Linked DNA regions of Homo sapiens: regions 1 and 2 are each linked to region 3. Evidence: fine-mapped expression QTL. A gene starts in region 3. Each other region holds a variant in brackets. All regions are shown on one strand. Distances are between the middles of the regions.

What was found. PIP is the estimated chance that this variant, and not a neighbour inherited with it, causes the effect. A credible set is the group of variants that fine-mapping cannot tell apart.
Region 1: its variant is the best candidate, but not a certain one, in a credible set for the expression of IFIT5 in left ventricle (GTEx, PIP 0.83).
Region 2: its variant is the best candidate, but not a certain one, in a credible set for the expression of IFIT5 in sigmoid colon (GTEx, PIP 0.62).

Annotation. Positions count from the first base shown.
Region 1 is chr10:89,429,720-89,440,368 of GRCh38, reverse strand. SLC16A12 (solute carrier family 16 member 12) reads left to right here. Exons shown (of 8, transcript NM_213606.4): 6 at 1,186-1,765; 7 at 4,050-4,309; 8 at 7,043-10,070. The coding sequence ends at 7,305. Among named protein-coding and RNA genes, the nearest start is that of IFIT5, 20 kb to the right of the region's middle. The variant G/A (reference allele first, on the strand shown) is at 4,763.
Region 2 is chr10:89,354,366-89,365,014 of GRCh38, reverse strand. It overlaps a transcript of LIPA not described here and the pseudogene IFIT6P. Among named protein-coding and RNA genes, the nearest start is that of IFIT1B, 18 kb to the left of the region's middle. The variant A/T (reference allele first, on the strand shown) is at 5,760.
Region 3 is chr10:89,409,488-89,416,803 of GRCh38, reverse strand. It overlaps IFIT5 (interferon induced protein with tetratricopeptide repeats 5), which reads right to left and starts at 2,236. Exons shown (of 2, transcript NM_012420.3): 1 at 2,001-2,236. The coding sequence starts at 2,005. It also overlaps a transcript of LIPA not described here. RefSeq lists enhancers at 1,190-1,259, 1,360-1,459, 2,070-2,379.

The sequences.
Region 1 (10,649 bases), 22 kb before region 3:
CCTAGTAACCCAAAGACCCTGACTGCTGCTATGGTGACCAATGGATCCCAGTTTACCAGGCACTGTCCTGGTTTTAACACTGGAAGTCCCACATCCAGAAACCCCTCAGTCCAGGCAACTCTGGGTTGCTGGCTACTGTGCACTGCAGTTGGAAGCAGGAGCTTCTGAAGGTGGTTCTCTTTTTCCTTCTCTGACATTCTAGTTGCCATAAAATCCAGGCTCACAGCCCCTCAGATTTTCTTCACTTAAAAAGTAATAGAAATTGATCTTTTTTTTTTTTTTTTTTTTTTTTTTTGAGACAGGGTCTATCTGGCTCGGTCCTCAGGCTGGAGTGCAGTGGCGCAATCTCAGCTGCAACCTCTGTCTCCTGGGCTCAAGCCATCCTCCCCCTTCAGCCTCCTGAGTAGCTAAGACTACAGGTGCATGCCACCACACCTGGTTAATTTTTGTATTTTTTTTTGCAGAGATGGGGTTTTGCCATATTGCCCAGGCTGGTCTCAAACTCCTGAGCTCGAGTGATCTGCCTGCCTCAGCATCCCAAAGTGCTGGGATTACAGGCATGAGCCACTGCACCCAGCCCAAAAGTTGAAGGTCTCTAAAAACTTTCTAAAGTGTCAACATTTGTCTGCTGACCTTAAGAGATATTTTCACATATATGAAAATATACATTGCTATGTTCACATATAAAATTGGCATGATGTTTCCCAACTATGTAAAATTACCCTGGAATTTTCATAGTTGTACATGCTATTTGAATCCAAATTCCAGAGTGGTGCAGATTGTCAGTGTTGTGTCTTCATAGGCAGTGAAGCGTTTAGGGAATTGTCTGGATAATTTAAGTTAAAAAATGGAGGAAGTGATAAGTTTCTTTGGTTGGCATTATCCAGATTTTCTAGTGAATTCCAATTTAGTTTGTGTAATTATTTTTATGTTCTTCATTTAATTTTGTTTATGAAGTCATATTTCCTTAAGGGTGTTCTCCCTAAAAAGAAAGTCATATATATTCTACATTTTCCAAATTGTGAATGACTGGTGAGGGGAGACTCATTTTAAGCTTGGTGTAAAAAGCAGCTTTAAAAGGGTTTAATGAGAGGTCAGATTCTCTTTAATATAAATCATTGTATTCTGAGATATCATTGGCTGTTTATGGTACTTCAGCACTCATAGAGTTCTCTTTATCCTCAGGTCTTGGATTTGCACTTTGTTACTCTCCAGCTATTGCCATGGTTGGCAAGTACTTCAGCAGACGGAAAGCCCTTGCTTATGGTATCGCCATGTCAGGAAGTGGCATTGGCACCTTCATCCTGGCTCCTGTGGTTCAGCTCCTTATTGAACAGTTTTCCTGGCGGGGAGCCTTACTCATTCTTGGGGGCTTTGTCTTGAATCTCTGTGTATGTGGTGCCTTGATGAGGCCAATTACTCTTAAAGAGGACCACACAACTCCAGAGCAGAACCATGTGTGTAGAACTCAGAAAGAAGACATTAAGCGGGTGTCTCCCTATTCATCTTTGACCAAAGAATGGGCACAGACTTGCCTCTGTTGCTGTTTGCAGCAAGAGTACAGTTTTTTACTCATGTCAGACTTTGTTGTGTTAGCCGTCTCCGTTCTGTTTATGGCTTATGGCTGCAGCCCTCTCTTTGTGTACTTGGTGCCTTATGCTTTGAGTGTTGGAGTGAGTCATCAGCAAGCTGCTTTTCTTATGTCCATACTTGGAGTGATTGACATTATTGGCAATATCACATTTGGATGGCTGACCGACAGAAGGTAAAATTCATGAAACCACAATTGGTTCCCCACCAGGGGACTTTAAGCCTTGAGTTTCTCCTCAGCCCCTTACCCTGTGGAGTACCTAGGTCTGAATAATGTTAACAAGTCTGCAGTATCTGAAGGCATCTCCCTTGCTGGTACTTCTAGATCAGAGGTTGGCAAAATTTTCTGTAAAGGAACAGATAGTAAACATTTTTGGCTTTGTAGGCCAAGTGTTCATCATAACTACCCAACTCTGCTATTATAGTACAAAACAGCCACAGACAATATGTAAACAAAAGAGAGTGGCTACGTTCCAATAAGACTTTATGCACACTGAAATGTGAATTTCTCTTATAATTTTCATGTGTCACAAAATATTGTTCTTTTGATTTTTTCCAACCATTTTTAAACGGAAAAACCGTTCTTAATTCACAGGTAGTACAAAAAGATGTCATGGGCCAGATGTGTCTAAATTGCAGAAGCCTAGGGTAACTACAAGTTCTGGCGGTAGATTTAATTCCATCCCAAGACAAGTCAGTCCTCAAGCAAGACAACTTTTGGCTGGGTGTGGTGGTGTTAGTTTCTTTTGAACCAGTCCTGACTGGCAATGGAAAAAGGAGCAGAATTCAGTTTAGGCAGGAGGGCCAGGTGCAATGATAACACATTGTCTGTAGCCACATATTCATGTTTGACAATGCAAATTGCAAGTAATTTCCTTGTAATTGCAGGCTTAGAAACCAAAGTTATAAGAAATCTACCAAGTAATTTCTTCAGCAAATGCTCATCTGTTTGGACTGAAGAGTGCAGGCTACTCATATTCTCCTAAATGATGAACCATTCACACTTGAGATATGACCTGCAGGGCTAATACCATCATGTAGCTTCTCACAAATTATGTTTTTGGTAATTAATCAGGATCCAACTGCCATTCTCCAGTGTTATGAATATGATATTTAGTATTGATTCCACATTTTTAATGGTTAAAGAAGAAGTGGAAGAGCAAAGATTACCTATTTTCACAATCAAATAACTCAGCAAGAAGCAGCCAGGTGTAGGTCTAATGGAGGCATCTCTACTCTGAGGCATACTAGACCTAAGTTCTTGCACTGGCTTTGCTCCTTATTAACCCTGTGACCTACAGAAAGTCACCTAACCCTCAGATCCACAATGATCTCTATCTGTAAAATGAGCCAGTGCAATATTTGCCTGTTGACCTTATACTATTTTGTGATGTTCAAATGAGGCTGTGAGTAGAAAAATGTTTGTAAAGCATAAGCTGTTGGAGCTGACATTATACAGATTCTTTGAAATTATTGGTATCATAAATGGGTTTGGAGTTATCAGGAAAATTAATGGGAATACCACTTGGGAGATCTTGAAATATATTAGACTTCATCCTAGTCCAAGACCTCCATCATCTCTGGCAAATCATTTTAATGTCTTTGTATTACAGTTTCCCCTTTGTGTAACCACTTGGGTTATTGAGTATTTATGATCTATGACATGCCAGATACCAATGGATAACATACCTAAAAGTATCTAATAAGGTAGACTGCTAGGAAAATTACCCTTCTGATCCTTTACATCAAGCTTGTCCAACCTGTGGCACATGGGCTGCCTGTGGCCTGGGATGGCTTTGAATGTGGTCCAACACAAATTTGTAAACTTTCTTACAACATTTTGAGATTTATGCACTCTTTCTTTTTCTTTCTTTCTTTCTTTCTTTCTTTCTTTCTTTCTTTCTTTCTTTTTCTTTATTTCTTTCTTTTCTTTCTTTCTCCTTATTTCCTTCCTTCCTTCCTTCCTTCCTTCCTCCTTTCCTTTCCTTTCTTTCTTTTTTTCATCAGCTATCATTAGTGTTAGTTTATTTTATGTGTGGCCCAAGACAATTCTTCTTCTTCCAATGTGGCCCAGGGAAGCCAAAAGATTGGAGACCCCATTTTACATTTTATTTCTATTTTATTTCACGACTAATTTCAGAGTAACCCTGTGAGATAAGTAACCTTTCCATTTTATAGCTAAAGAAATTGAGTTAGGCAGGCAGTGGGTGGCAGGACTAGTTTTAATATTCTACCTTTCTAATTTTGAAGTATATATTCTTTCTACCACACCATGCTTCCTGGAGAGATGAATTCTTGCATTTGCAAAAAAGAAAGATAGGAAGACAGCATACATAACACACAATGGGAAAGCCATCTCTGTAAATAACTGCAATGCTTACTGCTGCATAGCCGTGGCTCTAAAGCTCTTTTACAGAATGTGTACCTCCTGCACTTATTCTTGTTCTTCAAATCTACAGGTGTCTGAAGAATTACCAGTATGTTTGCTACCTCTTTGCCGTGGGAATGGATGGGCTCTGCTATCTCTGCCTCCCAATGCTTCAAAGTCTCCCTCTGCTCGTGCCTTTCTCTTGTACCTTTGGCTACTTTGATGGTGCCTATGTGACTTTGATCCCAGTAGTGACCACAGAGATAGTGGGGACCACCTCTTTGTCATCAGCGCTTGGTGTGGTATACTTCCTTCACGCAGTGCCATACTTGGTGAGCCCACCCATCGCAGGTAAGTTTCCAGAGAGAAACCCCAACCACCTTTTCTCTTTGGCATATTGATGTGAAAACAGCAAACCCACATGCAGTCAATGAGAAGGACTGTCAAGAGAGTTGGGGAAGAGTGAAAGAGAAAAGGGATATAAGAGCCCCCAAAACCATCATGGTCCCACCTACATCCTTGTTTTATAATCTTCTTCCAACCAAGTAAGAACCTTAGCCTACCTGGAAAGAGTAAGTCCCAAATTAGGGTCTTGATTCCTTTCCATATTAATGATGGGAGCAGGGGGATGGAGCAGTTGTTCAGCCTTATAAATAAGTAGGGTGCATTCAGAGGGAAGTCTCAGGGGAGAACAGGATTCCAACAGGGGGCAGTGGGTGATGAGGCTGAAATTATAAACGCCAGTGTCATAGTGGAGTGTTTTGGGTGCCAGACAGAGGAACTGGGCTCTATTCTTCAGAGACT[G/A]TGGATAGTATTAAAGTTTTTATGTAAAAGGATAATATGGTAAAGTATATATGTTAGAAAATGTGATCTAGCAATTGATCTAGTAACTTAGGAGAGAGGTAGCTAAGATTCCATTCTAATAGTTTAGGAGGCAGCTGATAAACGCCTGAGCTAGGGCTGCTGCAGCAGAAATAAAGATGAGCTCTGGGGGCAAGGAAGAAGTTTTCAAAACAAAATTCAGCAGAATTTAGCATACAGAGGTGAATGAGAGAAAGAAGTCAAGGATGACTTAGAAAATAATGTCATGGTTGAGAAAATAAGGAAATTCGAGAAAGTGGCTTTGCCTGAAAAATAATGAATATGGTTTTTAGATATGTTGAGATTTCTGAAATATACAGGTAAAAATGCTCAATAGAGCTGTTTAAAGATGAAATATGAGCTTTAGTGGATGGCCTGGTTTATATATAGATTTGGGAATCATCATATAAAGCACATAGAATGTTTTATAAACTCTAAAATGCTATAGAGTGAAGCATGATTAAACAATTTGACAAATATTTATTGTATGCATTAAACAAGTAATTCAACAAATACATATTGCATGTGTAACTAGCATTGTGTTTATCATGCTGGAGAGACAGGAGTAAACAGGTCAGAAGCTGTTTCTCCTTCCTAAAGCATGTGGTCTACACCACCTGCATCAGAGTCTCCTAGGGACCTTGTTAAAAATGCAGATTCCTTGACACTCCCACCTGTGATCTGAATGTTGAGGATGAGTTCCAGAAATCTGCATTTTCAACCAGCTTTGTTGTGATGCTCATGCGAGGTAAATATTGAGAATGACTGTTCCATATTATTATCTGCCTAAATTAAAACTGAGAGAGTGAACAAGTTCTCTGAAGACAGGCAAAAGAGAAATAACCCAAAACTTTGCCTAGAAAGAAGGCAGGAATTTTTTTGAGGAAGGCAGAGTTTCTGCTATTAGCTATTATTGTGAATAGACAGTTTCAGGCTATTTCCAAATCCAGCAATTGGGGTGGAATAAAAACAGCAAACTAGGGGAAATTGTGGCCGCTTGAGTGGTGCAGATGACAAAACCCTGTTCAGTTTGAACTCCATGATACAGATCTTTATGTTTAATGCTCCATTTTTGAAAACTGCCCCCAAAATATTCCCACATCCTCCTTTCATAGCTTATTTTAGTGCTCACCAACCTTTAGAAACAGTGTCATTCTATCAAAGGTCACAGGACACAAATGAAATTGGGATTCAGTTCGTGGCCTTCATTGGCAAATCAGACATGATACTCATTACTGGAAATTCGAGGATTAATTCTTATTGTATCATTTTCTTATTTATTTACCTTTCAAATGACAACTGTGTACTCAGTCTTTTTTGTTTGGTGCTATAGAATTGCACAAGTAAATCAAACAATAACTAAAATATTTGAGAGCAGTTTAAATTCAGGAAATTTTGTGGGGCTTATAACAACTTCTACATGCTATTTTTGACGAATGGATCTGAAGTGGGTAAGAGAAGAAATCATATACTTCTCTGGTGGGTTTTCTTGGCAGATAAGGAAAGTTTGAAGGAATTTAAAAAAACCTTTGTTAATTATAAAATAATTGCCTGACGAAGTATAATGTTATTCCACTGGTTTTCTGTCATTGTGGACCCTATTTTGCATATCATATGCCCGGTTTTCCTCAAAATTTAGAGCTGAGATAGATATTGAGATTAATTTGTTGCAACAAGAGATAAAGAAAAAAAAGCTAGTTTGCATTTGCAACTGCTAAAATAGCTGAAAGTTCTGATTTTCAAACTGGATAGAGTACAATGACTGAATCCAGTTGAAAATGTGATACTGCTTTGAAGCATGTCATGTTACTCAAAACAGTGTATGGGTGCTGTGAATACTACTGGCATTTTGTACAAATATGTTCTCTTAACACCCTAGGTAAATTATTCCAACCTTAATAATTTAAATGATGCTATTTTTATCTTTTTACCAGATTTCATGGGGTTAATAGTAACTAATATTTACGTTGTGACTACTAAGTACATGATGCTTTTCCAAGCACTTTACAGAACAACAATCAATTCACTCTAGAAGTTTTCCTGGAAAACAGAATGTATTTTTCAGTTGCTGCACAATATTTTTAGGTGACCTCTTTTTGTTTCAAAGTTACAATTGGTGGTGCTATCGATCTATTATTATCCTTACAAATCATTAGAATTTGAGAGTGGGTAAGCAATTGAATTTTCAACTCAAAAATAAAATTTTGCTGTTGTTTGTTACAGGACGGCTGGTAGATACCACCGGCAGCTACACTGCAGCATTCCTCCTCTGTGGATTTTCAATGATATTTAGTTCTGTGTTGCTTGGCTTTGCTAGACTTATAAAGAGAATGAGAAAAACCCAGTTGCAGTTCATTGCCAAAGAATCTGATCCTAAGCTGCAGCTATGGACCAATGGATCAGTGGCTTATTCTGTGGCAAGAGAATTAGATCAGAAACATGGGGAGCCTGTGGCTACAGCAGTGCCTGGCTACAGCCTCACATGACCAAAGGCCTTGAGCCCCAGAATCTTCAGGTTTGAGAGAGGTGGGGCCACCAGATTCTTCATGTTTCTGAAACTTTTTATTTTGGCAGAAGGATTGCCTTCCAAGGAAATTATTATTATTGTTTTGTTAACATATTAATATTTATAAGGGAAAACAGCACATAATAAGGAAAGCTGGACTAGCCCAGAGCCTTCTCATTTGGGATTTGTGCTCATAACTGAACTCGTATCTTTTGGTCAATGGGCATAGCTCTGTAAGAAATGTAAGGACACAGCTGATATAATTAGCTGTAATTAGGGATAATTTCAAAGCATAACCAAAGCAGATGACACTGGGCAGCAGCTTTGTTCCAGTCTCAGGCCCTTCATGTTCCCTCCTCAGAAAGAAAATGGAAACATTAACGTGTAGCTTTGCTTACCTTGTTCTGGTTAGAGAAGGGAGGTCAGCTTGGGTGTGGTGGTGAAGAGTGAAGATGCCATACTTTTTCATGGTGGAGTTTCTCATTAGGGTTTTACTTGGGATTGTTAAAGAATACTTGAGATTCTTCAAAAAGTGGTGATTAATATAGAAAGAAACTCTTATTTTTTTTTTCTCTTAGTCTTCCAGCCAGCCCTTGCCTCTGCCCAAGGGTAGACACCACTATGAGAATCCAAATAATCATGGAATGCCATGGTTGGAATAGATCTTAAAGGGCATCTGGTAAGATCCATTTGAAATTGTCCACTGGAAACCGAAAGCTCTTTTCCTAAGACTGGGTTCCAGGCTCTCACATTTGTTACCATCACATATAATACTTACTCTAAATTTAGCAGAACACACTTAGTCACAAGGACAACCTCTCAATCTTACCTGAAATGTCAACAACACCAAAACTTCCCGTCTTTTACCTTCAGAGAAGAAGCTCTTACTTAGACTGCAGACGCATTCCTGTTAGGTTGGAAAAATGTTGGCAGTATTCCAATTGGGCAGGAACTGAATTCTTGAATCAGCAGGTCTCTGGTGAGAGTTTTCTTTGCAGATCAGACATTTAGTTTTATCATTACCCAAAAGAGGATTGGAGGGAGTCAGTTGTCTGAAAAATATTATCCTAGAGATATTCTAAAGGTGAGATTCCTTTCTCCCTGTGTTAATTCTTGTTCCACTATCCACTGCTCTTCATCTCTTTATAGATAATAATTAGAAATCTACTCATTGGATTATAAGTTTATTCATTCTCAAATACTCCACTTTTCTATGGTTTGGGATAATTTCTGAGTCTTCAGATTGAAGAGGGAAGGCATGGAGGGAAGAAAAAGTCCAGATCCCCCAGCTTGTTTCCAACCATTTTAAGTCCAAAGAATTATAATCCTGAATCTCACAGTGTGTCACACCTGTAATAGGAGTAAATTATGCAATCAATTTTAATTACCAGGAGTTTAAAATCCAAATGTCAAGGAACTGTTTTGACCCTGAAGGCTATTTAATCCACTGTCCCCTACAAGGCCTCACAAGTGCTGGGGGAAAAAAAACAGCAATGAGGATGATCCTGAGTTAATGTGTATGCTCCGCAAGAGAGCTTGCCTATACCTTGATTATTTCATAAAATCACATGTTAATACATTGCTTTCAGAATGAAATACTGACTTGATCTGATAGGAGAAAATGGTAATATTTCATAGTTGTTTTCCAAAGACAAATTTAAATGTTGTCTGTTATCTCCTTACTTAGTTTAAGAATTTAGTTTTGAACCCCATTGACTTTGTCATTTGCAATTTTAAAAATATTTGGGACTGGGCATGGTCGCTCACGCCTGTAATCCCAGCACTTTGGGAGGCTGAGGCGGGTGGATCATGAGGTCAGGAGATCAAGACCATCCTGGCTAACATCGTGAAACTCCGTCTCTACTAAAAATGCAAAAAATTAGCCAGGCGTGGTGGCGGGCGCCTGTAGTCCCAGCTACTCATGAGGCTGAGGCCGGACAATCGCTTGAACCCAGGAGGTGGAGGTTGCAGTGAGCCAAAATCATGCCACTGCACTCCACCCTGGGCGACAGAGCAAGACTCCATCTCAAAAAAAAAAAATTGGAAGGTATCTGTAAAATGTCAAAGTTAAGATGAAGTTATATCTGTTTGGAATAGCACTTTGCCCTAAATATCATTTCTTGAATTTTCAAGCCTAAAGATGTTTAAAAATATGAATAGTTACAAATATTCTTATACATATTTTTTATCATGATCACAACAAAATTTTGTTTATGTGGTTCTGCAATATAATTTCTGTGAAGTATTACAAGTATTTATGAAAAATAAGCATAGTGATCAGAAATTTTAAAGATTTTGTATAAAAACATTTGGGAGATTTGACTTTATACATGCATAGATTTGCATTTTACTTTCCCTTTTGAGGCAGCATTTTTAGAAAATCAGTAAGAAAAATGTACATCTTAAGGTCTACTATTTTACATTTCTACACAGAATTTTAGTGTTAATGTTCCATGTGTCTATACTGTTTATTTCAAAACTGAGAAATTCATGGGAATGATGTATTTTGTGGAATCAAGAACAAAATTATAGTGGGATAATTTTACATCTTAAATATTTCTTTCTACTACTGTAAGCTCTACTTTGGAATTATCTGAGTAGAAAATCAGAAGACATTATCTAACTTTGTAGATACACTGTATGATTGGGCTTTTTGTTCAGATTGTAATTTCATTAATAGATGAAATATTTATGCTAATATTTTCTTATTTCAAAAGCAAAATAAAATGAATTTATTGTCCTGTGTTTGGAAAGACATTTTTCCCTCGGACAAGAGGTTTGGACTGGATGGTGAGTGGGCCTGTCTGGATCATGCTAAGATGTGGTCAGCATTTTAAGATGTGTTAAATAATCAAATGATTTACAAAAACCAGAAGTCTTTATTGAGTTCTTCCAATGTGTGAGCTATTATGCCAGGCACTTCCTATGCATTGTCATTGTCGAATTTAATCCCCATAGTGACCTCTATTATTATCATTTTGTAGATGTGGAAACTGAGGCACCAGTTCCCACAGCTCAGTATCCTCTAGTGTGAAATCCTGTAAAACTGGGATGCTGCTGATGCTGAAGCCCTGTGTCCTTCCCCTGTGCCTACTTGGATTATCTTATGTGGGTTCAAGAAGCTGTTGGGAAACCGACGCTCCCTTGGACAGATAAAATCCTTTGGATTATGCTTCAGTCTTCTAATCAATATTGAAGGAAGATTCTAGATTGGAGATTTCCAAGAGTTTTCCCAAGAGGATCTATCAAAACCACTACTTTCAGGCTCAGTGGTTTAATTTGCTGTTGATTGATCCAGGCTTCTTTTGGGGAGCATTTAGGGTT
Region 2 (10,649 bases), 53 kb after region 3:
GCTAAATGCTTCCTTGATGTGTGTCTTTTATTTGTAGGTAGATGTTATGGCTTCTTCTGCCTCTTATTTCTGCACAGACAGTTTTAGTTTTCTTGCTTCCCACACAGACATGTAAATTCACAGCTTCTTAGAGGTTGCAACAATTTAAAACTCTACTCACAAATTTGTTATCTTGGTTAATTTTACTATAGATTTTTGGATACAGAGAAAGAGCAAAGAGTATATTACACACTACCTAGCACTACTTGTGCATCTCAAATAGGGGGACTTTTTTCACTTTCTCTTTTTGTGATGCAACTTAACTTCCCTTAGGTCAGAATGACTAATTATATATATACTATATATATACATATATATTATATGTATACATATATATGAATACTTTAGAACTATTTCGCTTTCAAGGACTGAGAACTTTCTTAAACAAAGGATTGGATTTGTTATAAAGCTATAATAATTTATATTATAAGGTATCTCAATAGTCTGAAAGTATAGGAGAGAGATGGGCCTTAAGAAGTGAAAATGGAGCTGAGATACTGTGGTGCACACAAGAATCTTTTCTCTCTTTCTGCCCATGTGCTTTGTTTGTAGATCTTCTTGTGGGTCAACATCTTTGCCCATATGAAAAAGTTGACTTCCTGTACTCCCTGAATATAAATCTCCTTTGAACAGCTGACCTAGTAGACTGAAAATGGAAGTTGTCAATTCCAATTGCAAATTCTCAGAAGTCTGATTGGTCTGGCAGGTGCCAGGTACCTAACACAAGACATATCAAGAGTGACAAAGGGGTGCAGTGATAAAGGAGAAGTGCTGATATTGCTGCCACAACCACGTGGATAGGTGTTCATTAGCCAAAAAGTGGGAGTTGAGCTGATGATGCGATGTGTGCCACCAAACAGTTTTATGTTGCTTCCTGTCATGCCTTTTTGAAAGCAGCGATCAGGGAAGATTTATCTGATATTTAGATTTAGATATGATAACATTTAACATCTCAAAAGACAGGGTTCAGGCCAGTAGCCCGTCTCAGGCTGTCTCATAGGACAGCACAGCTTCACTTTCTTTTCCCCTTTCAATGTGTGAAGGAGCACAATGAGATTCAAACTCTCCTCATCAGATTTAAGCAAATGAACTTGCCTGTTAGCCAATTCAGTAAAGCACTAAAATTTTTTTCCTCTAGCACTTGACTGAATTTCTATATTTAGCCACACCCGCCCCCCCTCGCTTTTTTTTTTTTTTTTTTGATGGAGTCTGGCTCTGTTGCCCAGGCTGGAGTACAGTGGCATGATCTTAGCTCACTGCAAGCTCCGCCTCTCGGGTTCACGCCATTCTCCTGCCTCAGCCTCCCGAGTAGCTGGGACAACAGGTGCCTGCCACCACACCTGGCTAATTTTTTGTATTTTTAGTAGAGACAGGGTTTCACCGTGTTAGCCAGGATGATCTCCATCTCCTCACCTTGTGATCCTCCCATCTTGGCCTCCCAAAGTGCTGGGATTACAGGCGAGAGCCACCGCGCCCAGCCCAGCTCTTTTTAATATTAGTCAATTGTGTTAGCTTCAGACTTCCCATGACATTCCTGAAAGGGGCCATAACGATAATAAATCTCTTGCAACAGCTTTTATTAATATCATGCAGGCTGAGTGCTTTCTGGTAAATGTCCTCAACTTTTTGGTGTTCACCTCCCTCTGCATACCTGTTGGCTAGGTCCACATAAACCATTGCAAATGTGGGCCTTTGCTCTACAGCAAATTCAACATGAGATATAACTAATCTTATTATTTTGTCTACAGTTTCTCTATCCTGCCTTTAGCTTTTTTTGTCTGTTTCCTGCAGCAAAGCCCTATCTGGTGATGCAGGAAGGCAGAAGTGGGTGTTCCCTGCAAGGCCATTTTTAAGAGCAGAAGAGCTTTATCTATATTGCCTCTTCTTTGATAAAACTGGGCTGCATATAGAAAAACATAGGTCTGTGAAGACATACTGATTAGAGCTTTTTCAGTGTGCTTTTCTCCTTCAGCTTCCTGTCCTTCATCCTGAAGCTTCAGGGCAAGGATAACCTTAATGTGTGCATCTTTTGGATTTAGACTGACAGCCCATTTTAGGGGGTGCAGAGAAAATGTCTCATTACTGTCTGTTGTGTTAAAACCGTCCAGGCAATAGGCAGTGATGACATACCCAGTGCTGAATTCAGGATTTTCAGGGCCCACCTCTAGAGCCTTTTCAAAGCAGGCCTTGGCCTGTTCATAATTCTTTCCTCCACACTTCGCCAAGGCCCATCCTTCCTCACAGTTCATCTCAGGACACTCCATTCTATAGCGGGAAGCATTTGCAAACTTCTTGCAAATGTTCTCTACCTTATCCAGGTAAGTCTGGGCTTCTGCCAGTCTGCCTATGTGGTGATACGCCCAGGCAAATTTGCCCCAGCCCAGGCAAAGTTGCCCCAGGTCACCTGCCCATGTGATGATACTGGTCACTCATGTCTGCTTGGTTGGTGTGTTCTCATTCAACTTCTTTCTCTAGTGCTTTCTCATTCTGGCCCTTCCAGTGTTTCACATAAGCTAGTATGTTGTGCATTCCCACACTGTACTTTGTGTCCACGAACTGGATCTCTTCCAAGACCCTGTTTTCTAAATCAGAAATTTCAAGGGCTTCAATTAGCAACCCCCATGTAAAGTGACATCTCAACTGCTCAAGCCTATCTTTGACTCCATGATAATCAGCATTTTTACTGTGAAAATAAACAGGAAGTATTTGCGTGATTTTCTGATGGAAATGGAATGCTATCTAATGAAAAGATAGGTAGAAACATTGTTAAATAGTTGGGCACAGTGGCTCACACCTGCAATCCTAGTACTTTGGGAGGCCAAGGTGGGCAGATAGCTTAAGCTTAGGAGTTCAAGATCTGCCTGGGCAACATGGCAAAACTCTAGCTCTACAAAAAATGCAAAAAAAATTTATCTGGGCATGGTGGCACACACCTGTAGTCCCAGCTACTCAGGGAGGCTGAGGTAGGAGGATTGCTTGAGCCCAGGAGGTTGAGGCTGCAGTGAGCTGTGATCATACCACTGCCCTCCAGCCAGGGTGACACACACAATGAGATCCTGTCTCAAAAAAAAAAAAAAAAAAAAAAAAAAAAAAAAAAAAAGGCAGGTGGAGGGTGGGGGGTGGATTTTTTTTTCCCCATAGCTGTTTTCCAGGAGCATAAGGCTTAGGTAAAGCTTAACATTGTCAACGTCATTCCATATTGCCAAGTGTTTGGTGCTGTCCCTGCAATATCCTAAGGAGGAACCATACTAGGCTGTGAAGCCTTAGTTAAAAATTATCAACATCATGATATCAGCAAATGCATTTTGTCTGCTTGAATACTGGCTGAAAGGGATTAAATCTGCCAGTGACTTAGATTAGTTGGAAAACTAATGCAGTTAGATAGGTTTTGAACTCCTCAATGCTATATGACACTTTCGTTTCTCAGGATGCCATAGCAGATGACATGCATCAAAAAAGCAATAATGCTGTCAGGAGAAATGAACCTGGGGCAAGGAGAAGCTCTTTCTCACCTTTCTCTAGGTTTCCAACTTGGTCCATTAAGATTTGAAAACAACTGCTTCTTTCCCCAAGGCAGAAATAGTGAAATAAACATTTCTAGTTTTATTCTTCCCCCTAAAACAAGACGGTGGGCAAAGTGACTTTTCTGAATAAACTCAGTGTCAGGCATGGTCTTCTCCTTTTTCTTACAAAGAATTATTTCTTAGAGTCATCAACATGCCAAAAGAGAATTGGTTAGGAGCAGCTTTTGAGCCAACTACTCCTTTATGCCCAGTCCTATCTATGACATATTGGAGGGTTGAATTGTGTCCACCAAAAAGATGCTCTGAAGTCCTAGCTCCCAGTACCTGTAAATGTGACCTTATTTAGAAATAGGGTCTTTGCAGATATAATCAAAGATGAGCACATTGGGAGGACGCTAACCCAATGTGACTGATGTCCTCATAAGGAGAGGAAATGAGACAGAGTCAGGCACACACGGAGGGAAGATATAAAAACACAAGGAAGGATGCCATGTGAAGAGAGAGCATGGCACCTAAGAGGAGGCAAGGAAGGATGCTGCGGGGAGTTTCAAAGGGCGCATGGCTCTGCTGATACCTTGATTTTAGGCTCTTGGGCTCCAAAACTGAGAGAGAACAAATTTCTGTGGTTTTAAGCCACCCAATTTGTGGTACTATGTTATGGCAGCCCTAGGAAATTAATACACAGAGAAAACATTGAAGCAGGAAAGATCATTGAGATTGACTGCTGTGATCTTAGGGAATCCCCATGTTTGATGGGGAACGAGCCAGGTGCAGTGGCTCATGCCTGGCTCATGCCTTGGGAGGCCGAGGCGGGTGGATCACCTGAGGTTGGGAGTTCGAGACCAGCCTGACCAACATGGAGAAAACCCATCTCTAGTAAAAATCCAATTCTTTTTAAACCATCACTCTTAGCCTCACATGTACCACTTCTAGTCTCTATGGTGCTTGTGTAAATTAGAAAAGAGTGCCCTTTTCTGTGAGTATATGTGTCCCTTGCCAGGACACTTATCTTGGTGAGCCAAATGTAGACTGGGTTTCATTCTCTTCCCTTACCCCTTTGGCTAATGAATAATCTGAACAATAATGCTTGGCTGCCTTGGCAACAAGCAGGAGAGGTTTTTCTTTTGTGTTGATTATGGGTGTGTCCTCCCCAACATGGGCCATCTTTTCCTCTCTAGATTGTGAGCCACAGGCACATTCTGGGGTGAAATGTTATTAAACAGTAGTTGTTACTCTCTAAATAGATGCTAGGCACTTAAAATCCTCCAGGTTCCTATTTCTTTAAAAACTGAGCAAATAAAGGGCAGTAAGATAGTTCATTCTCATATGTTTTATGATTAGGAAGCAGAGAGTCAGGGAACCTGGTTAACAACCCAATTCTGCCCCACTTAGTACATGTGTGAGTTTAAGTAATTAACTTCAATTTCCAAATTCTTCATTTGCAAAATGACCCAGTAAGAGTTATAATCATTCCTAGTTATAGAACTATAGTGAGAATGCTGAGGTAACGCAATAAGAGATCAAGGCAGAGTGAGCTAATTACCAAGCAGAACATAGAACTTAGGCATTAGCATTAGGGTTGGCATTATCATTGTGTGTGTGTGTGTTTGTGTGTGTGTGTGTGTGTGTGTGTGTGAGAGAGAGAGAGAGAGATAGATAGAGAGGGAGATCCAGGCCTTCAGTGGATGGGTGAGAGGAAGACGCCCATCAACCATTAGGTGACACGTGTTTTCCTATGTGAGCTCCCCTTTTGTCAAATTTTGGCATTTCTGGGAGGAGCACCCCACCTTGCCATGGTCTTGAGCCTCTGCGAATAGGAGCAGCTTGATGAGGGCTTCAGTCCAGCATAATCTAGAGGTTCTCCTTGAGGCCCTTCAGGTCAGAGGGCTCTGGACACACCTGAGCATTTTGCTGAAAAGCCTCTTGGGCAGGCTGGCTGCTAAGGCCCTGGGCAGGTCAACCTGGTTTCCTGGTCAACCCCATGTGTAGCACTAGGATTAACATGATTTCGTGACCAGGAATGCAGTTAACAAAAATAGGAACCTCTTAGTAGTGAATCTCTCTCACCAATATCCTATTCCTCAAATACTGCCCTACAGGGCATTTATTTTTATTTTTAATTAACTAATTCATCAATTTATTTATTTTATTGAGACATAATAGTTATATATATTTTGGGGTGCAACAATATAAAAC[A/T]TATGTGCCCCAAAATGTGTCCTCCCTCTCTAAAATATGCCTTAGGCAGACTTTCCAGATTAAGTTGGACTGAGGCCCACATCAAGCTTCCTCTATTCTCAGAGGCCCAAGATCACGGACGGGTTGGGCTGCTCCTCTCCAGCAGTGCCAAAAATGGACAAAAGGGCAGCTCACCTGAGAAAACCCCTGACACCTGCTGGCTGATGGGCATCCTCCTTTGCTCCATTCACTGAAAGAACTGATATTTTGATACATTTATACAGTGTGTAATCATCAAATCAGGGTAATTGGGATGTCCATCATCTCAATAATTTATTTTTTCTTTGTGTTGAGAGCATTCCAATTCTTCTAGCTATTTTGAAATATGCAATAACTTATAGCCACCCTACTGTACTATCGAACACTAGAAATTATTCCTTCTATTTAATGACATTTTTGTGCCCATTAACAAACCCCTCTTTATCTTCCCTCCCCTCTACCCTTCCCAGCCTTTGGTAACCAACATTCCACTCTCTATGTCCATGAGATCCACTTTGTTCTTAGTTCCCGCATATGATTGAGAATGTGCAATATTTGTCTTTCTGTGCCTAGCTTATTTCACTTAACATAATGACCTCCAGTTCTATCCATGTTGTTGCAAATGACAGGATTTCATTCTTTTTTATAGTTGAATAATATTCCACTGTGTCTATAAGCTACATTTTCTTTATTCATCCACTGATGGACACTTAGTTTGTTTTTATATCTTGGCTATTGTGAATGGTGCTCCAATGAACATGAGAATACAGATATCGCTTTGATAACTTGATGTCAATTTTTAAAAATATATATCCAGCAGTGGATCACATAATAAATCCATTTTCAGTTTTGGGGGGAAACGTCATACTGTTTTCCATAGTGGCTGTACTAATTTACATTCCCACCAACAGTATATAAGGTTCCCCATTCTCTGCATCCTCATCAGCATTCATTATTTTTGTTTTTTTGATAGTAGCCATTCTAACCAGGATGAGATGCTATCTCACTGTGGTTTTGATTCTGCAGGGCATTTAATGGCCTTCCTGGGACTGTGGCTCAGGCGGCCAGATTATCTTCTCACCACATGGAGGAACTAATAGAAAGTGGTCTCTGTCCTTCCTGCAGACCTCTTCGCAGCAGGCAGTTACAGGTATTTAAATGGTGGAAGATGCATCTGAGAATAGGGTCCTCTTTTTTTTTCTCAGTTATCCTTCTCCTGACACTATATCAGATGAAAAGATTCTAGCAAGTCAGTCAGTATAATGTTGAGAAGAAAATACTTTCTGCAACTTACCAGCACAAAACCAAACAGGAAAAGAGGAATGTGTACCTTTTGAATAAGATATACCTTAATTTTGGTTAGGTTTTATATTTCCTAACATCTGTTGAAAAGATAAATCTTATTTTAATGGTTATCATCACAACAAAACCCCAAGCATTGATGCTTTCAAATAAAAATTGAACATAGCTACCTTTAAAATTCTTTTATTTTACTACCTACCTTTGAGTGATCCATCTTAGCCTGAATAGATTAAAACTCACTCCTCCCATCATCCTGTCTCATTCAGCTCCTCTCAAACCTCAGGTCAGTTTTGTCTGGTTTGCAATTCTATGAACATCGCTTGTGATGTTTTCATTCGGTTAGAATTATGACACAAATGCAATGACTTTTACTGTTAACACAACTTTATTTTCTTTCTGGGTCTGTGTCTGTTAACTTAGTAAGAAAGCATAATAGAAGAGTTAGAAAGTTTGCCTTTCTTAGGAGGAGTCTGCAGGGAAATTTGCATTCTAGAAAAATACAGGAATTTAAAAATATGCTAGAAACAAAAGTCCAGGAGCACCAAGAGGTTGACCTCATAGTTTCTTGAGAGACACAGTTGCTACATAGTGCTTGGTTCCAGCTGAGAGGCTCCTCAGGTTTGTCCTGTGTCCTTTGGTGCTTCTTAGGCAAGTGAGGGGTTTAGATTCAGGGAGGATTTCCTGGTGATCTTGTTTCCCATGTAAATAGCACTGCTATGGTATAATACGAAATATCTCCTTAGCCTTTGTCCCTGGTTCCTGTCACAGAGCTTCTAAATTCCTTGGAATTTCCAACAGTGATAGGAAGCATGTTTTCTTATTCATAACAGACCCCTTTCAACCATGCCTGAGTTTATGTTAATGAAGTCACACTACTGGGGGCCCCTAGATAGTTCATTATGTGGGCTGGTTGCCAAAAAGACCAAGGCATGATTAGAGGGTTGGAACTTTCAGCCCCATCCCCCAACCTCTGGGGAGGGAAGAAGAGCTAGAAAGTGAGTTCAGTCACCAGTGGCCAATGATTCAATCAGTCATCAAAATCTTACCTATATATTGTGAACCTCCATAAAAACCCCTCAAGCAGCAATCCCCAACCTTTTTGGCACCAGGGACTGGTTTTGTGGAAGTCAGTTTTTCCACAGACTGGGCAGGGATGGTTTCAGGATGATTCAAGCACATTACATTTATTGTGCACTTTATTTCTATTATTATTACATTGTAATATAAACGAAATAATTATACAACTCACTATAATGTAGAATCAGTGGGAGCCCTGAGCTTGTTTTCCTGCAACTAGACGGTCCCATCTGGGGGTGATGGGAGACAGTGGCAGATCAGCAGGCATTAGATTCTCATAAGGAATGCGCAACCTAGGTTCATCGGATGCAGAGTTCACAATAGGGTTCGTGCTCTTTTGAGAATCTAATGCCTCTGTTGATCTGACAGGAGGCGGAACTCAGACAGTAATGTGAGTGATGGGGAATGGCTGTTAATACAGAGGAAGCTTTGATTGCTCGCCTGCTGCTCACCTCCTGCTGTATAGCCCAGTTCCTAACAGGCCTCGGACTACTACCAGTCTGTAGCCCAGGGATTGGGGACACCTGCTTTAAAGGATGGGGTTCTGAGAGGTTTTGAGTTGGTGAACACATTGAGGTGCTGGAAGAGTAGCATCCCAAGCAAAAACATGGAAGCTCCATGCCCACCCTTCCTCCCCCTACTCACCCCATACCTTGCCCTATGCAACTCTTCCATTTGGTTGTTCCTTAGTTGTGTTACAGGAAAGGGGTCCCAATACAGACTCAAAAAGGGGGTTCTTGGAGCTCACACAAGAAAGAAATCAGGGCAAGTCCACAGAGTAAAGTGAAAGCAAGTTTATTAAGAAAGTAAAGGAATAAAAGAAAGCCTACTCCATAGGCAGAGCAGCAGCATGGGCTTTTCAACTGTGTATACTTAAAGTTATTTCTTGATTATATGCTACACAGGGGATGGATTATTCATGAGTATTCTGGGAAAAAGGCAAGCAATTCACAGAATTGAGGATTCCTCCCACTTTTAGACCATATAGGTTAACTTCTGAATGTTGCCATGGCAAAATGCCATGGCGCTGATGGGAGTGTCTTTTAGCATGCTAATGCTAAATTATAATGCTAAATTTAGCATTATAATTAGCATATAATGAGCAGTGAGGATGACCAGAGGTCATTTTCATCACCATCTTGGTTTTGGCTGGCTTCTTTACCGCATCCTGTTTCATCAGCTGGGCCTTTTTGACCTGTATCTTGTCCTGACCTCCTATGTCATCCTATGACTAAGAATGCCTAAGCTCTTGGGAGTGCAGCCCAGTAGGTCTCAGCCTTATTTCACCCAGCCCCTATTCAAGATGGAGTTTCTCTGGTTCAAATGTCTCTAATAGTTGTATCCTTTATAATTTCAACTGAAGAATAACAAACTTCATAAATTTTGAAAGGAGAGCTTTATTTCTCATAAGGGGATTGCAGCCTTCAGGCTGAAACCATCTTTGCAAAAATTGTATCAGTGAGAAAATTATGACAGGGAATGAGATCTGAGCTAACTCACCAACCCCCATCTTGCCTTTCCCATAATTATTTCTGGGCTATTGGGTTGAGCTAACTTTGGAAGACATTAGATTATAGTTTAAATGGTAATAGGCTGTCCCCCAAACTCAACCACTTTTGTAAAGCTAATGAGAGTCCCTTAGGCTGTGGGGAGGAGCGGAGACTGAATCCTACTAGGGGGCAGACATAAAAGTTTGATAGCCGTTATTCCTGAGGTTAAACAATTCACAACTTCCCCAATTACTCCTGCAAATAACAACACTATTGTAGGACCCTAAAATTGGCCTTTTGACACATCTTTTCAGGTTTTTTGCATGTCTGATACCCATGGCTCCACCTGGACCCACCTGAATCCACCAATCCTCCTCCTGTGGCCCCATCCAGAAGCAATTCAGCATGCAGGAGGACAGCTTCAACTGTCTATGATTTTGTCTTTGCCCAACCAGTCAGCAGCAAGCCTAGCCACCTCCACACTTTGAAAACCTTCTAACATACACCGGGCATGGTGGTGCACACCTGTAATCCCAGCACTTTGGGAGGCCGAGGCAGGTGGATCACAAGGTCAGGAGTTCAAGACCAGCCTGGCCAAGACGGTGAAACCCCATGTCTACTAAAAATACAAAAATTAGCAGGGCGTGGTGGTGGGTGCCTGTAATTCCAGCTACTCGGGAGGCTGAAGCAGTAGAATTGCTTGAACCTGAGAGGCAGAGGTTGCATTGAGCCGAGATTGCACCACTGCACTCCAACTTGGGCGACACAGTCAGCCTCTGTCTCAGAAAAAACAAAAACAAGAACAAAACTTCTAACTTATGAGCTTTGAAGGAGAACGACTTGAATACGAACTCCATCTCCTACATGGCATGACTAGTCTTGTGTCTGTCAATGAAAAGAGTCAAACTCTAAAATATTTGAAGAGATTTATTCTGAGCCAAATATGAGTGACCAATGGCCCATGACATTGCCCTTAGGAGATCCTGAGGACATGTGCCCAAGG
Region 3 (7,316 bases):
TTTCTCTAGTGTAATTGTACCAAAAATATGGGCAAGACATGCCATGTCCTTACAGCCTGCTTAAATCCACAACAACATGGCTTTACCAGCCCCCTGCCTAAAACAAACACCTGTTTTGAAGGTCTCTACCAGCCCAGCCCAAGGAGGATGAGGAGGGCTGCTCAGGTATTATGGATTTGGTTGTAAGATCTCAAAGGGACATTCAATCAGGTACTGACGTGGTTTGTCCAGGCTCTGGAATTTATGCACAACTGGACACCATGAGAATTTTTATTGTTTAAACTTTGTCTACTTAATTTTGTAACTTTGTCTTTGGGAAGCTAATAAGAGAGAAGCTATTGCATCAGAAGAGGTAACACGTATCTTTCGGTAATTCTGTTCTTCTGCTAGGAAGAAGCAGACTTTCATTGTCCTTGGGAGACAGTCCCCAATGGGGCTGAGCCCTTTTCCTCCCCATCCTGCATATATACGGTGCACGCCACCGTCTTTTTCTGTTTTTTGTTGTTGTTGTTGTTTTGTTGTTGTTGTTGTTGTCAAGCCCCTTCCTGATAGCACTCTCCTTTCTTACAAATGTTAGATGTGGCCAGGCGTTGTGGCTCACGCCTGTAATCCCAGCACTTTGGGAGGCTGAGGCGGGTGGACCACGAGGTCAGGAATTCGAGACCAGCCCGGTCAACATGGTGAAACCCGCGTCTCTACTAAAGATACAAAAAATTAGCCAGGCGTGGTGGCACACGCCTGTAATCCCAGCTACACGGGAAGCTGAGGCAGGGGAATGGCTTGAACCCGGGAGGCGGAGGTTGCAGTGAGCCGAGATGGAGCCATTACACTACAGCCTGGGTGACAGGGCGAGACTCCGTCTCAAAAATAAAGTTAGATGTGTGGGTGGCACTTAAACTTTTTTTTTAAACTTATAATGGGAATAATTAACATTTATTGTGCAAGTATTATGTGCTAAGCAGTCAACTGATAGGATTTATTACTGTCCTTTTCCACAGTCCCAAGAGATGGACACCATTAATTTTTACAAATAAGGAACAGACTCACAGAGTTTGAGAAACTTTGGGATCACTCAACTAGTAGGAGTTCAGTCCGGATTTAGAACAAGGGACTATCTGCTTTTAGAGCCCAAGACCTTAACATCTCATTCCTCAACTCATTAAATGCGGAAGGTTCACTAACCACGTGCAGGGCGGGGTGCTAGCCCCTGGGGATACAAAATGATCAAGAAAAGGACGCCATCATACTAAATCAGTAAAGGAAACAGATAAAGAAATCCTCATAAAACAGCGGATTGGGTGGGACGATAACAATCTGTGCTTGGTACAGAGGTAGCTCCTGGGAAGGGAAGAACTCAGACCCAGAAATCAGAAACGCAAACTGGCAGTGGCAGGCGAACCTGACGCCTGCAGGGCTGCGGCGAAACCGCGTATGCCACACCGAGGGAATGGCAGCTGGAAAGAGAGGCACGCGACAGGCCTAAGGAGACCCGTGGCACGTAGCAGCTGCCCCCGGAACAGCGCCTGGGGGCTCTGCAGGCGCTGACCAGTTTCCCGGAGGCGGCGGCCGCGGACCCAGCACGGTCACCGTCGCCGCTGCCGAGAAGAGCCGTCGGGTCGCGATGGGTGGACAGGCCTTCCGGGGGAGCGTCGCCCGGCACATACCCTGACAGTCCCGACCGCAGACGCCAGGGATGGGACAGGCTCCCGGGGAGCATCTCCTGTTCCTCCTCCCTGACCGGCCTTCTTAGGCGCTGGGGAGGGGCCGGACTCCCGAGAAGCGTCCACTCGGCCACCCTCCCCGGCAGGCCCGACTTCAGACGCCGCGCGCCGGGACAGAGCGCCCGGGGAGGGTCCCCAACGCAGATGCCCGGTTGCTGGGCGCGAGGGGCTCGGCCCCTGAAAAGGCCGCAGAACTGCGCTGGAAATGAATAAAAGCAGCCCGGTTTGAAACCAAGGCCGACGCAGGGCTTGGGAGGAGAGGCAAAGGAAAACCCTTACCTCATGATGGCAGCGCTCTGCAGGCCGTCCGGGCGGCGCAGTCCCTCGGATCGCTCTCTCCTCAGCACCGGGGACCGCGGGAAGCCGCGCGGTGGGCGTGCGCGTGCGCGTGCGCGCGCCAGGCCTCTGCAGCCCCTGGACTCGGCCGCGCGGCGTGTCTTTGTTAAAGGAGAGACCCCAGCCCCAGCAAGAACAGGAAACTGGAGATTGAATCAGATGCCGAGCGCTCAGAAACTGAAACTTAAGAAATCGAAACTAAACGTAAGCTTCAGAAACCGAAACTTAATAGAAGAGCTCAAGAGCCGCGGCCAGACGTTTGCGGAGTCCAGGGTCTTTCGGAGTTGAATTTGCAGCTGGGCTCCTTCACTTTGGTCTCGGCTTTTATCTGCCTCCCTGAGTACGCTGAGTTCGCATGCTGCCCGTGTAACTGTTTGTTTGTTTGTTTGTTTGTTTGAGATAGCGTCTCACTGTGTCACCCAGTCGTGATCTCAAGGGATGCGCCCGCCTCTGCCTCCCAAGGTGCTGGGATTACAGGCGGAAACTTAAGTCCCTGCTTCCACTCCAGTCTTTTGATTCAACAAGCAACACTGCAATGCTATACATCTATGCTGTTATTTCTGTTGGGTGTAAACTGAGAAATTTGGAGCTAAAATCTATATACATTTTAAGTTTTGACGGATATTGCCAAATAGCTTTAAAAATCCACTCTTACCCACAATTGTAGGAGACTGCTTCTCTTCCATACCTTCGCCAATGGTGCTTTGTAATAAGGACCCAATAAAGACAAGAGTGGTATTGGGGATCTAGGCAGAAAATGTCAAACACCCATACCTTAAACATTTTGTCCCCTTTGAATTCATTCAGCAAATATTGACAAACAACTGTAAGAGCCAGACTTTGTTCAAAGTACTGTCAATATAACAATAAAGAAAACAGACACGGGCCTTACCCTTATTGAGTTAATGTCTGTATTCAAAACCTCAATATCCTGTCCATAATTCATCTTTTGCATTGATTTTGGTTTTTTTTTTTTTTTTGAGACAGGGTCTCACTCTGTCACTCAGGTTGGAGTGCAGTGGTGAGATGACAGCTCACTGCAGCCTCAACCTTCATGGCTCAAGCGATCCTCCCACCTCAGCCTCCTGAGTGGCTGGGACTATATGCGTGCACCACTATGTCGGGCTAATTAATTTATTTTTTGTAGAGGCGGGGTTTTGCCATGTTGCCCAGGCTGGTCTCCAACACCTGGGCACAAATATTTTTCTAAACCTTAAATATTGTTCCGCCCATCGTGGCCTCCCAAAATGCTGGGATTACAGGCATGAGCCACTATGCTTGGCCTGATTTTGAATTTTTAAAAACATATTGCATTGAAATATTGTCTACCTTGATCACTGAGCTTCTGGCACCCCACCCCTCAAAACTTAGTGCCTGAAGCGAGTGCCTCATTTAAAGCAATCACTTCTAACAGTTGTACTGTCTTATACAGAAACTGCTGGTCACCTGTGGCTATTAAGAACCTGATTTTTAATTTAATATAAATTTAAAAACTGATAAGTTAATAGAAAACTTACATTTGGAATAACTTAGGTATACGAATCTGCTTTTTATAAGTTGCAAATTTTATGAACTCTAAATACAGAGCAAGTATTTCCAGTGATTATCCTCAGCAAACTAATGCAGGAACAGAAACCAAACACTGCATGTTCTCACTTGTAAGTGGGAGCTAAATGATGAGAACACACGGACACAGTGGGGAACAACACACACTGGGGCTTGTTGGAGTTGGGGGTGGTGGGAGGGAGAGCATCAAGAAGTATAGCTAAGTGATGCTGAGCTTAATACGTAGGTGATGGTGTGTCCGGAATTGGTTCCTTCCAGTAGGTTTTTGGTCTTGGTGACTTCAAGAATGAAGCTGCGGACTCTCGCTGTGAGTGCTACAGTTGTTAAAGATGGCGTGTCTGGAGTTTGTTCCTTTCGATGTTCAGATGTGTCTGGAGTTTCTTCCTTCTGGTGAGTTCGTGGTCTTGCTGACTTCAGGAGTGCAGCTGCAGACCTTCACAGTGAGTGTTACAGATCTTAAAGGTGGCGCGTCCGGAGTTGTTCGTTCCTCCCGGTGGGTTCGTGGTTTCACTGACTTCAGGAGTAAAGCCGTAGACCTTTGTGGTGAGTGTTACAGCTCATAAAGGCAGTGTGGACCCAAAGAGTGAGCAGCAGCAAGATTCGTTGCGAAGAGCGAAAGAACAAAACTTCCACGACGTGGAAGCAGACCCGAGCAGGTTGCCGCTGCTGGCTGGGGTGGCCTGCTTTTATTCCCTTATTTGGCTCCACCCATATCCTGCTGATTGGTCCATTTTACAGAGAGCTGATTGGTCCACTTTACAAAGTGCTGATTGGTCCATTTTACAGAGTGCTGATTGGTCCATTTTACAGAGTGCTGATTGGTCCATTTTGACAGAGTGCTGATTGGTGCGTTTACAAACTTTTAGCTACACACAGAGTGCTGATTGGTGCGTTTACAATCCTTTAGCTAGACAGAAAAGTTCTCTGAGTCCCCACCTGACCCAGAAGCCCAGCCAGCTTCACCTCTCAATCCCCCCTCTAAACAGGACACCCCAATTGCTGATGGGAATTTGGCTGATGACTGCTCTAGCTACTTTCTGCTGGATAGGGGCGAAGAAGGGGCCCTGTAGGTGTAGTGTCCTCCAGAGGGGAACTCTTTAGGCCAGTGGAAGGGCCAGCAGGTCAGTCCAGGGGTCCTCGGTAGAAGTTGTTAGTTGAACTCATTTGGGGTTCCATTTGTAAGACCATCTGTAGCTTGAGGGCCTCAATTCTAGAGGAAACAAATTTGACAAGAAGGTTAAAAACACAGGGCCCAAAGACAAGTAACAGCAAGATGGCTGCCACAGGACCTAGAAAGGGGAGAAGCCATGTTGCCCAACTCCAGAGGTTGGTATAAGAGTTTGAAAGGTGTTGTCTGATTTCAGAAGCCTTTTCCTGTAAACACCGGGTGGCATCTCGTGCTATCCCTGACTGGTTAGTGTAAAAACAACACTCTTCCCCTAAGAAGCTGCACAGTCCTCCTTTCTCAGCAGTGAGGAGGTCTAGGCCTTGGCGATTTTGGAGAGTCGCTGCTGCCAAAGAGTCTGTTTGGGATTGTAGAGTAAGGATAGATTTCATTATTTCATGCAAACTGTCTGAGAAATCCTTTGAGAGTGTATGGTAGTAGGATAATGCATGTTACACTGTTAACTTTTAGCAAACTTTACGTTAGTTGAAAACCTTGTAAGTTTGGGATTTCAATTATTCTTTGCTATTAGTAAGACCTCGTTCAGTCCATATTAACTTAGAATTGGTATAGATGGCTCCTTCCTGATTCTGTAAGTATTTTAAGGTTTGGCTGAGTGCAAACAGCTGACACATTTGAGCAGACCAATTATTAGGCAATTTTCCTAACACTGCTTCTACAAGAGTTTCCTTATTATTTACTGAATACCCATTGTGTTTTTTTTTTCCTTAATTGCCCAGGAGGAACCATCTATCCGTCCTGTCCTGAAGGGAGTTCCTCCTAGATCTGGTCAGACCTTTGTATGGGAATTAATTAAGATTTAGATCCCCTGTTAGGAAACCTGCTGGGTAAGGATTTTTGATAGGAAGGCTACTGGTTGTCAGTGGCCTCAGTGCTTTCAGGCTACGCCCTTGTTTACACTGACAGCAAGGTGGTATTGGAGTGTTATAGGGTTTCTGAGAAGACCTTCAGTTATCAATTATAGGTTTTAAATTTACCCTGGCTTTTAAAGGAATAGGGTACACTGTTTTTTCTTTACTACTTCTATCTCTCTCTTTGACTTCTTCGTCTCTCTCTTCCTCTCTCTGTCTCTCTCTCTCTGACTTTCTGTCTCTTTCTTGCTTTCCTTTCTGCTGGTGTTTCCCTGCCTCTGCCAGTGGCTTATGCTGCTGTTCTTCCCTCTCCTTCACCTTTTGATGGCTTCAGCAGTGTAAGACTGCCACCTCCTTGGGTTTTTGCACCGCGTGCAATAACTCCGTGGTTTCCCTGTGTTATTTAATGGGGGTTCCCCCAGAGGTTAGGAACTCCCTTTCTTTCCATATTGCAGCATGGGCATGTAGGATTAGATAAGCATGGTTGCTCTCTGTATACACATTTATTGCTTTTTCCTTTCCCAGTTCTAAGGCTCGGGTAAGTGCCACTAGTTCTCCTAACTGGGTGCTGGTCCCTGGGGGAAGAGGCTTACTTTCAAGTATGGTTACATCGCTAAATATGGCATAATCTGTCCTTTGTATCCCATTCTCCATAAATGAACTTCCATCGGTATATAGGTTAAGGTCAGGATTAGCTAAGGGGACTTCTAAGGGATCATCTCGGGCAGCATAAGTCTGGACTAATTTGTTGGCAGTCATGCTCAATTGGTTCCCCAACCTCTGGGAGAAAAGTGGCAGGGTTGAGGGCCACGCATATAGGTATTTGAAGCACTGGTCCCTCAAGGAGTAGCACCTGGTATCTAAGTAGGCAGTTGTCTGATAGCCATAAACTTCCTTTGGCACCTAGTATGCCATTTACATCATGAGTATCCAGACAGTGAGACCCTTTCCTTATATTATTTTGATAGCCTCTGACACTAAGATGGCCACTGCCACAACTACCCTTAAACAGTGAGGCCAGCCTTTTGCTACTATATCAGTTTCCTTACTTAGGTATGCCACTGGTCATGGGGTTGTCCCACGAGTCTGAGTAAGGACCCCAGGAGCTATTTCTGCTTTCTCTGTGATGTTTAAAGAAAAGTTTCATCCTTTGGGAAGGCTTAAGGCTAGAGCTTGAGTTTGTTTCTTCCAATGCCCAGACTTCAGGGTTGATTCCCCTCTCAAGTAGGGGACAACAAATGGGTAACTTATTCCTCATATTCGTTTAGATAATAGCTCCAGCTTTGGCTAATATATCCCTCCCTAATAAGGGTGTGGGACTTTCAGGCATAACAAGAAAGACATGTGAAAAGAGCAAAGTCTCCCAATTACATCTGAGGAGGTGGGAGAAACACCTGGTTACAGGCTGTCCCAGGATTCCTTGGATGGTAATGGAACTTGAGGACAGCTGTCCAGGACAGGAGATTAACACTGAGAAAGCTGCACCAGTGTCCAGGAGGAAGTCAATTTCCTGCCCCTCAATGGTTATACATACCTGGGGCTCAGTGAGAGTGATGACATGAGCTGGTGCTTGCCCCAGGCACCCTCAGTCCTGTTGTTGGATCATCTGGTTGGGGGCTTCTGTCCCAGAGAACCTTTGTCCTCTGGGGCAGTGTG